Linked DNA regions of Homo sapiens. The protein of the gene in region 3 purifies or fractionates together with the protein of the main gene of each other region. This does not show direct contact. Each region holds a gene or a part of one and is shown on either strand. Other genes may lie near its edges.

Region 1 (3,652 bases), on a different chromosome or scaffold from region 3:
CCGTGCCTGGCCCCGGCCAGGTATTCTTTTAGAGCAACACAAAATGGACCAAGACATGAATCAACAGACACACTGATGGATGAAGAGAGAGATTGGAGTGGGGGAGACTCGCACCTGTGGTGTCCACCTGGGGCAGGAGGCGCAGGAAGATGGGCCGGGCATAGGGTGCCAGCACCTTCTGCAGCTCCTGGTATATCGCGTTGGGGTCCAGCAGGCTGTGGGGGTCTGCGACGGCCGCCATCCCTGCCTTACCCTCCACTCCTGGAGGCAGAGGCTCAGCTGAGGACACCCCGCCTCTCATCCTCCCCACCAGCAGGACCAGATACACTGTCAAGCAGTAGCCCCTGGTCTGTAATCTCCAGTCTCTCCCAACCTGGGATGACATTTATGGAAGCAGCCACACATTTTGTGGAGCTCCTGCTTGGCTCATTGAAGCCCTAAGACAGGTGGGCTTTCATGATCCCATTTTCTGGATGACAAAACTGAGGCTCAACATCACCCAGGTGAACTGGCTCCAGATCCAGTGCTTCCTCCTGGGCTGCCATGAGCAGTTGTCCAGGTTGTGCACTGCCCAAAGGCATGTGTACTTCTAAGCCCCTTTTGGCTGAGCTCCCTCAGGACCATGCCTCAGGACCACCCCCTGCAACCCCAGCTTGCCTGGAACAGCCACCCCATAGACGGCCACGTCTGTCTGGCCCAGCAGGCGGCTCAGCACGCCCTCCACCTCGGTGGTGGAGACGTTCTCCCCTCGCCAGCGGAAGGTGTCCCCGCTACGGTCCCGGAAGTACATGTAGCCCAGCTCATCCATCACTAGCACGTCACCTGGCAGAGGGGAGAGGGGCAGATGGGTGGAGGATCCCCATCCGCACAGCCAGTCACCGGGGCCTAGCAGGCTGCGCACCTGAGAGGTAGGCGCTGTCGCCCTTGCTGAAGACGCTGTGGGCGATCTTCTTGCTGGTGGCGCTCTCGCTGACATAGCCATCGAAGCGGCGCAGCGGGTCCTGTTGGTTGATCTGACCCACAAGGAGGCCAGGCTCCCCTAGGGAGAAGGCCATGTTCAGGCTGCGCTAGGCAGGCAGGGCGTGGGGACCCCTGCTCCGGGTGGGGACCATGCGGGGGCCCTGCTCACCGGCCTGGCAGGGGATGCAGAGGCCCTGGGCATCCCGCAGCAGCTCCATTGTGTCCTCATTGACCTTCACCAGCCGGATGGGGTACACGTGGGGCAGGATGCGGCTGTTGAAACCACAGGAGCCGACCTGGAATGGGGTGAACTGAGTTGGAAGGAGCCGGGGATATGCGGGGTCCTTCTCAGTAACACTTTGCCTGCCTTGCCCTGGGGCTTGGACCTAGCACCTCCAGTGTCATTCTAAGCTCTGTGACCTTGGCTGATCTGCAAAAGCAGGGTAGTAAGCGTCGCCTCCAACTCAGGGCCCCTCCTCCCACCTTCCCAGCCTGCATTCAGTCAAGAGAAGACCTCTGGCTGGCACCCACTTCCTGATCCACAAAACCCTCCATGCTGGCAGGAAGTAGATGCCTCTGTGTGGACACTACAGCTACGTCAGACACTGCAGAGCTTCACCTGCTGCCCGCCGCCCTGCTTGGCATGGTTCTATGAACAGAAATGCTTCTCCAACATGTTTGAGCCACTACACCCTGTCTGGTGTGTTTCTTTCTGCTTTTCCCCCTTCCTCCGTTCCTCCCTTCCTTCCTTCCTTCCTTTTTTTATAGAGTCTTACTCTGTCGCCTAGGCTGGAATGCAGTGGCGCAATCTTCGCTCACTGTAACCTCTGCCTCCCACGTTCAAGTGGTTCTTATGCCTCAGCCTCCTGAGTCTGGGATTACAGGCGCATGCCACTGAGCCCAAACAATTTTTTTTTTTTTTGTATTTTTAGTAGAGATGGGGTTTTGCCATGTTGGCCAGACTGGTCTCGAACTCGTGACCTCAAGTGATCCACCCACCTCAGCCTCCCAAAGTGCTGGGATTACAGGCGTGTGTGGGTGGCAAGCTACCCAGGTGCCGAGGCAAGAGACCGAGGGCACGAGCCATTCCAGTATAATAAAATATATAAAACAACAAGAGTTATACTAGATCTAGATCATAGACATGATTATATATGAATATCATTAGTCATCAGTTTGTAGCAATTACTCTTTATTCCAGTATTATAATAATCCTCGCTCTGTAATCATAACCTAGAAAAAACCGGGCCATAGAGAGATAGGAGCTGAGGGGACACAGTGAGTAGTGACCAGAAGACAAGAGTGCGAGCCTTCTGTTATGCCCGGACAGGGCCACCAGAGGGTTCCTTGGTCTAGCGGTGACGCCAGCGTCTGGGAAGTCTAGTCTAGCGGTAGCCTTAGTGTCAAGGAAAAACACCTGCTACTTAGTGGACCGGGAAAGGGAGTCTCCCTTTCCCCCGGGGAGTTTAGAGAAGACTCTACTCCTCCACCTCTTGTGGAGGGCCTGACATCAGTCAGGCTTGCCCACAGTTATCCGGAGGCCTAACCGTCTCCCTGTGATGCTGTGCTTCAGTGGTCATGCTCCTAGTCCGCCTTCATGTTCCATCCTGTACACCTGGCTCTGCCTTCTAGATAACAGTAGCAAAATTAGTGAAAGTACTAAAAGTCTCTGATATGCAGAAATAATGGCATAAGCTGTCTTTCTCTCTCTCTCCCTCTCTCTGCCTCTGCCTCGGCTGCCAGGCAGGGAAGGGCCCCCTGTCCAGTGGACGCATGACCCACGTGACCTTACCTATCATTGGAGATGACTCACACTCTTTACCCTGCCCCTTTTGCTTTGTATCCAGTAAATAACAGTGCAGCCAGACATTCGGGGCCTCTACCGGTCTCCGCCTCTTGGTGGTAGTGGTCCCCCGGGCCCAGCTGTCTTTTCTTTCATCTCTTTGTCTTGTGTCTTTATTTCTACAATCTCTCGTCTCCGCACACAGGGAGAAAAACCCACCGACCCTGTGGGGCTGGACCCTACAGGCGTGAGCCACCGTGCCTGGCCTGGTGTGTTTCCTATGCAAGAATCTGAGCTACAGTGAGCAAAAGTGCCCTGGGGGCTGGCCATCCAACACCAAGCACACTGAGGAAGGAGCATTGTTCTTGGCATTAAGGACCCAGCCCCCATGGCACTTGCTGTTTTTTTTTTTCCTTTTTAGAGACACAGAGTCTCACTCTGTTGCCCAGGCTGGAGTCCAGTGGTGTAATCATAGCTCACTGCAGCCTCGATCTCGTGAGCTCACGTGATCCTCCCGCCTCAGCCTCCTTAGTAGCATTGACTACAGGCACCTGCCACCATGCCTGGCTAATTTTTTATTTTCTGTAGAAAAGGGGGTCTCACTACATTGGCTATGCTGGTCTCAAACTCCTGGGCTCAAGTGATCCTCCTGCCTCAGCCTCCCAAAGTGTTAGGATTACAGGTGTGAGCCACTGTGCCCAGCCGACATTTGCTTTATGATCATTATTACGGTCTGTTCTTGGCCTTGGATGGGAGGGGCTTGGGAAAGGAGAGGGAGATTCATGCAAGCGGAGAATGGAGATGATTAAGAGAGTAAGTAGTTGCTAATTATGAAGGTATCTGTTTGCTGCTACTTGGGAGGCTGAGGCAGGAGGATTGCTTGAGCTCAGGAACTGAAAGCTACAGTGA
Region 2 (3,559 bases), on a different chromosome or scaffold from region 3:
CACCTTGTGGTGCCCAGGAAATGGAGCAGAAAACCTGGAACCCAGCTGGGAAGCATCGGGCTCCCTCTAAGGGTCTACACGGTGTCTAGCGAGCGGGCGGGACAGCTGAGAGGAGGGGTGGGCAGTGTGGGGACAGGAGGCTGGGCCTGTCCAGTAGCTTTCTCCAGGACACCAGCTCTCCACGTGCTCTGCTGTCTGGGCACCGCAGGGGGAATGAAGACTGAGGGAGACCACGGGAACTGATGACTAGAAAGAAGGCACGATGCCTGCATGGGGCCCGCAGGACACGTCTGTGACCCGACTCGACCGCCTCCCTCCCAGAACCACCGTGAGCCCCAGGCAAGTGCCGACGCTGTTCCACCTGTGGCTGAGCCAGGTACCTGTCCCCTCTGCATGCACCCGGGCCACCCACCGGGGTGGGGAATGGACAGTGAAGTCCAAGGATGACCTGATGAAAGGGGCGCTCAGAGAAGACCCTGGGACTTCCAGGACAGAACAGGACTCGGGAAAAACAACTCAGTGTAGTGTTCTGTGTGCACATTTATTTCTTTCAAAGATTGTTTGTGTTCCAGCCACATCTTCTCCAAAGGAACCCACCCAAGCCCGTGTGCAGGCTTGCTGCAGGGCTGTCTTCGGCGTTTAAAGTGCTACTGAGGAATACAATCATTGTCACGTAAGTTCATCACCGCACTCCAGCGTCAGGCCAAACCTTTCCGTGGACCTGGAAAACCTGCCACTTTCTTCTCTTTTTACAATGCAGTTTCGACATAACATTGGTAGAGTAAACAACAAACCACAAGCCTAAATGATGAATGGTGCGCTGCTGCCCAGCTGCTAACTGAGAGAACGAGGCAGTGTATTGTGTTTCGAATGCAAACGGTCATGGACCCAAGTTAACCTGAGTTTGCTCTGCAGGATTCCGCGGGGGCCTTGCCCTGTGCAGGCTGCTTTGGTCTTCGTGTCTAGGCCGGTTTGGGGCAGTGGGGAGAGGGCCTGGCAGCAGGGTTTACGCCAGCCCCGAGGTCTGTTTTCCGTCAGACAGAGATACGTGTCCTGCCTTCCACCATCCACCAATTTGTACTCTGAAGTTTCCAGATCAAGAGCCGTGAGATTACTACCCAGGAAACACCTGCCTTCGGTGGCCAGCAGTGTAAATTAATCTTTCCCTCTCTGCTCAAAGCAACTTTGCAACTCTCGTCTATAGAGGTGGCCAGTAAAACCCAAGCAAAAATCTAAACGGGCACCAGGTGGCCACTGAGTGGCGACTGGTCGAGTAGCAGTTGGTCATAAGGGATCAGGGCTGGTTTTGAACTCAGACTTGAAACTTGACGAAAATAAAGTGCTCTGTCAAAACTCTCACAGCAGGTTTTCAGCTGGAACAAGGAGATGGCTACTTTTTGTTATTGCTACAATAACACACGCGTGTGTGCAAACACACATAACACACACACACACTTAAAGCTCCATTTCACTCCTCCACAAAGAACAGAGGCACCTCCTTAAACAAAGCAAACGGGGAAGGGTTGCAAGCTCATTAAAACCAACATGAGCACCCAGTTCCAGAGATACAGACACAATTAATCTTAGTGTTCATGAGGAATTGTTTTTAAAACACAACTGGGCAAAACTTTCATCCAGACAAAAGCCAAAAACAAAAGCCCTCAAGCCACAAAAGCTTGTAGAAGAGGTGAGGCGATAAAGGTGATTTACACATCAGTATTTTTAGCATTTGGTGGATAATCTTAATTTATCTTTAACCTTCACAACATTTACTTTGTCATAAATACCCTACACCATGAAAAAACAAACCTGTATAAAACAGCTTGGAAAACAAACATTCACAGTATCAATACAGCCCATTTCTCACGGTGCTACCCTGAAGCTAGCCGACGTGTTGCCTTTGCCTTTGCTTCATAAACTCCCTCCCATGTTGGTGTTTTCTGTAACTTCAGAAAAGGCCATTGGATGGAGACAACGTGTGCGTGTCTACAGGAAGCAGAGCCCTAGACCTTGGTATTCAACAGTAAGCAGCGCTCATGGGATTCATCTGGAAATGGAATAGTTAAAACCTTTTTTTTTTTTTGAGAGCAAGAAGGCTTAATATAAAATCCTGGGGCCGGCCTGGTGGCTCATGCCTATAATCCCAGCACGCTGGGAGGCCAAGGTGGGTGGATCACCTGAGGTCAGGAGTTCGAGACCAGCCTGACCAACATGGTGAGACTCCATTTCTACTAAATAGAATTAGCCAGGTGTGGTGGCGCGTGCCTGTAATCCCAGCTACTTGGGAGGCTGAGGCAGGAGAATCGCTTGAACCAGGAGGTGGAGGTTGCAGTAAGCTGCCATTGCACTCCAGCCTGGGCAACAGAGTGAAACTCCATCTCGAAAAAAAAATTTTTTAAATAAAAAAAAACTTCTGATATCCTTGCACTTGAATAGAGTGCACCTGAATTCCAAAATCAAATAAAAAAGAACAATTAAAAACTTCTCATCAGTGTCTGAAATTCTGACACATAATATCCTCTTGGAATTCTTAAATATGTCTCAGCCTCTTTTTACCACATGGCAAAGAGCAGTAAAACTTCAAGTAAAACATTAAAGTGAACATCTGTCCCATCTGTCCCAAAAGACTAACAGTGATGCCTGACTTTGGGGACAGAAACTTGGTAGTATTCACATGTTTTGAAACTCCAGGTGCTTTTTTTACAATGATTAAAACTGGAATATAATTTTTAAAAACAAAGCAGGTTGGAAAAGTCATTTTAAAGTCACTTGATAATTCCTGGAACACCTAAGAAGTTTGTAATGCGCATTTTAAAGTGAAATTCCTAATGTCGTTTTCTAATCTCTCTCTCTAAAAAAGAAGAAAAAAAAATCCTATAATTTTGGTTTTTATACAGGTTTTTACTAAAAAAGAAAAAAATCCTATAATTTTGGTTTTCATATAGGTTTTTACTAAAAAAGAAAAAATCCTATAATTTTGGTTTTTATATAGGTTTTTACTAAAAAAGAAAAAAATCCTATAATTTTGGTTTTGATACCGGTTTTTACTAAAAAAGAAAAAATCCTATAATTTTGGTTTTTATATAGGTTTTTACTCACCAGTGGCTCTATTACCCCCGAAATATTTAATGTTTAAGGATTAACAAGAGGCTACGGAAGGAAGCTTGCCCATTTCCGTCTCCATGACAGAAGCCAAGCTTTCGTAACAGCCTTTTACATGTCTTTGGAGAAAAGTGAATCATATTAAACTGTCAAGAACACTTCACCCCAATGATGACTGCTCTTTGACCAGCATGTCTACTGGAAGTGGCACATTCAGAAGTGAGATCTGTGAATGAACTGAAATAGAAAGGCAACTGATGAGGAAAGCGACTGGAATGATATTAGGGATATTCAAATGGTGTGCCAGGTTTGTGATGTTTTCCACCAAAACAAACCCAAACAAGGGCACCCCAACCTGTGTCCAAGAGGACTGTTCACAGCAAAATTCTGAAGCGCTCATAGAAGGAATGTCCTGCGAGTTTGGCCCATTTGTTATTAAACTTCCATTCCTAAGACT
Region 3 (3,652 bases):
ATAAGCATGGTAGAAATAGATGAGTTTTTAAATAGGACTTTAAAAATACTTACCTTTGGCACTGGCATCAAGCAGTTTGCTAGCACATTCTGATTGCGGTGCTCCATGCTGCATTTTCTGTGGCACTCCCACTCACTAACTCACTGAGGTGGGCTAAATATGATCCCTTGTACAGATGGGACCCCAGGAGTTTGAAGTGATGAACCCTAAGCCACATATGTAAATCAGTGATTGAACTGATGAGCACTTTCTGAACCTGATTTTTCTGGTTGTTTAGCTTATTCCCACCTACCTTTCAAAATGCTCTCAGCGTGAGTGTAAGTTGCATTCAGCGGTTCAAGATGGTTTCATTTAAAGAATGAAGTTGTAGAAAGAGGAGAAATGGATGGGTGCATACAATTTGTGGATTGCACATGTGTTTTGATATTGTACATACTGCTAATGTGCCATAAGTGTTATCTGGGCAAAATCATACCTACTAGCCTAAAGGACAGTTGTGCTGTGGCTTATATGTATTTGCCATGAAGCCTGCATGGAGCCCTACATTTCATGCAGGGATAAAGGAAAGTGATTTTATATGAAAGTGATCTTATGTATAAAGCTACAAAGAATAGTAGCTTTAGAATAAGAAGCTGCAAAGATATTTTTCTATATCATATACTCTTTTTCTACCCAAGCAGTGGCTGCCACCTGTATGGTTGGGGGCCATGTTAACCAACTGCTGCTTTCCCCCACAGAACCATCACAGCACTAGGAATATCACAGATGCATAATAAATGTTGAGGCTTGGAGGCATGGAGATTAAGAAAACCGTTGAAAGCCAAACCTGACAACACAACATAGGAGCTGCTAATTTGAGGTTCTACCCATTCAAAAGCAAATACTTACAAAGTATGTTCAGGTACTTAGGGCTCCATAAAACTTTACATTTGTGTATCACATAGACAGTCAGTCAACCTCTGCCTTGGAGGAACCACCTACTTGTTGCAGATTATTCACTATTTTTATTTTTTCCCCCATGTATATTAACTTCTGGGTTCTGGCCTTCAATGGATAAACAAACAAACAAACCCTAGACTTAGGGCCAGGGAAACTGTCCCTGTTCATTTTATTTCTTACACAGCCAAATAAACTTCTTCCCTGAGGCTGAGAATGTTAAAACATGTGATAATAGAGACAGTCACTCCACATATTGCCGTTCTTTTTGAAGATGCTATAAAATTCTAAAATCTTCTCTGTGGATCTGTCATTCAAGAAAGCCTTAACTGGGGATTCAAATTATACCTCTGTGTTAAACATCTGTTCCTTTAGTTATTTTCCACAATAGTGCCTTTTTAAATAATTATTTGATGCTCTAAATATACTGTTAAATATTATGCAAGCATTTTAGATTTTGTTTGGGGGACATAAAGAGGATTGAAATGATTTTAATAGCTGTAATTATGGATCCCAATGACCAACTCTATGACGAAGGCAACTTGCAGAGCAGAGGCCCAGCCCTGGGGACAATGGGCCTTCCATGCTTCATGCTCTCCCCGTTCTCTCTCACCACCAGCTGGGAACTAAATTCCACTATTGTCCTGAACTGGCTTGTCTATTCTTGCCCTGACTTGATACTGTCACAGCTTGATTTAAATAGGGGTGTCTCTGTGTGTGTGTGTGTGTGTGTGTGTGTGTGTATGTGTGTGTGTGTGGCTGGAATTTCTATTGTAAATGCAGAACAGACACAGAAAACCAACTGGGAAACAGCATTATGTAAATGCTGTTTCTGCAGGTGTAAGGGATTTTAAAAACGTTTTAGAAAACTGCATGGATTTAAATTTATTTTGCCTTCTGCTTTCATGCAAGATACCTGGGAGACAGTGAGAACAGACAATGCAGTGTCACCTTGCATCCTTACATGTGATGTCCTGGCTACAATCCTGCCCGTTGTCCTTGGTATATGAATAACACTTCATCTCAGTAAGAAATCATGCATAATACTTCTGGCTCATTTGCTAGGGAGGGCTGGACTACTAACCACTCCAGCTTGAGGGTCCCTTCTCTTTACATCTCTCTCTTCTTACATTACTACAGCCTGGGGTACTTGGCCCACTTCTGAGATTAAGCAGAGATGGAAATAAAACTTTCCCTTTCCTGACTGATCTCATTATAGCCACAGCTCATTAGAGTTTCTCTAAGGAAAACTAAAGGGAAGCAAATGAGAATGTCCCCTTAATAAACACTGATCAAACTGTGTTGCAAAAGCATAAAACCTGATGAACTTAACAAAGCTTCGGTGTTTTACTGCTTGTATAGAAATTTGTGGTTTACCAAACATATTCATATTTTTGTAAAGCCCAGTTTCAGGGTTTTATTTTTGTTCATTCTATTCTATTTTGTTTTGTTTTATTTTAATAATGCAGTTTCCTAGGCATAGAAGTTCCTACTACCACCATTACTGTGTTTGAGGAAGCCCTGATTTGGATCTTTAGGTTGGCACTTGGCTTCCTCAGCTCTTTAGTTCTTGGATTGTAGGAGAGAGGCTTGGTGCCTAGCACTATGCCTGCCACCCAAGAGGAGCTCCCTGTTTGTTTCAGGAACGGTGTACATAAATAAATTAATGGCTTTTTAAGTGACCCTTCCTCGGTTGTTCCTCCTAGAAGATCCTGCCTTTGCTGTGACCTTTAATTTTTCTTTCCTGTTCTGGGAGTCTGTATCATGTGCACCTGCTGAATGCAGGATGGGGTTAAAACCTGCAATGGGAAGTGTCTGGATCATTGGGGATTGGAGTGCCAGTCATTTTGGGCCTGCAGGTGACCCACTGAAGATCCAGTCACTTCTCAGCTCATGTTCTTAAGGCCATCTTCTGTTGGCTTTCTCCATGGGAGTTCTTTTCTAGAATCATTTCAATAATATTACAACTATCTATAACAAGTGTTCCATAAATTGTTGCCTTAAATAAAGAATAGGGTCATTGTGTTCTATTAATTGCAGAAATGCTTGCTGAAAGCACATGCAATGTCTTTCCTCTTTAAGGGGCTGGCCATCCATTTGATTTATATAACATATAGACATAGCTCAAATTATTTCCAAACCCCCATAATTTTTTTGTTTTTTCCTAGTGTTGAAATTTAGATTAAAATAGAAAAATTAGTAGGAGAGACAAGCTTATTGCTTACAGCAGATCAAGCAATTATATTGAACCAATATTTGAATCTCCTCTGGCAAATTCTTATGTACTTTTCTGTTGTCCTTCTTGTCTTTTACCTCCTGGTCCTTTGACTCCCAATTGCAGGTTTGTGTGCAGCTTGGTGTATTATGGCCTAACTCTGAGTGCGGGTGATCTAGGTGGAAGTATTTATGCCAACCTGGCCCTGTCTGGCCTCATAGAGATTCCATCTTACCCTCTCTGTATCTACTTGATTAACCAAAAATGGTGAGTAAGTGTGGATGAATATGAAGTGCACCGTAGAGAATGCACACATACACATATGCCCTCTGATACACATGCATATCTATATGGTGTTGTCTTTGTATGCAGTATCAGCTGATTGCTCTGTGGTGATTAGAGTTTCTTTCCATCTAAAAACAGTTAGAATTCATTTCTTAGTGCAGGATTTCTTGAGTTTCATGTTTACGAGTTTTTATATAGATTTCAATTCAATATTGA

Evidence for each region.
Region 1: the proteins of SLC22A15 (region 3) and SLC27A1 purify together in Homo sapiens (affinity purification with mass spectrometry; one large-scale study listed by BioGRID and IntAct). This does not show direct contact.
Region 2: the proteins of SLC22A15 (region 3) and C2CD2 purify together in Homo sapiens (affinity purification with mass spectrometry; one large-scale study listed by BioGRID and IntAct). This does not show direct contact.

Annotation. Positions count from the first base shown.
Region 1 is NC_000019.10:17,497,882-17,501,533, reverse strand, and holds part of SLC27A1 (long-chain fatty acid transport protein 1), read right to left. Parts: intron 1,257-3,652; coding exon 1,130-1,256; intron 1,040-1,129; coding exon 902-1,039; intron 823-901; coding exon 658-822; intron 262-657; coding exon 115-261; intron 1-114. UniProt on the Homo sapiens protein: Mediates the import of long-chain fatty acids (LCFA) into the cell by facilitating their transport at the plasma membrane.
Region 2 is NC_000021.9:41,884,590-41,888,148, forward strand, and holds the end of C2CD2 (C2 domain-containing protein 2), read right to left. Parts: 3' UTR 523-3,559; downstream 1-522.
Region 3 is NC_000001.11:116,031,910-116,035,561, forward strand, and holds part of SLC22A15 (solute carrier family 22 member 15), read left to right. Parts: exon of another isoform or gene 1-737; coding exon of another isoform or gene 738-738; exon of another isoform or gene 739-1,848; coding exon of another isoform or gene 1,849-1,849; exon of another isoform or gene 1,850-1,945; intron 1,946-3,277; coding exon 3,278-3,418; intron 3,419-3,652. UniProt on the Homo sapiens protein: Organic zwitterion/cation transporter with apparent specificity for amino acids and their derivatives. Has low affinity for its substrates and may regulate their flux across the plasma membrane at high substrate concentrations.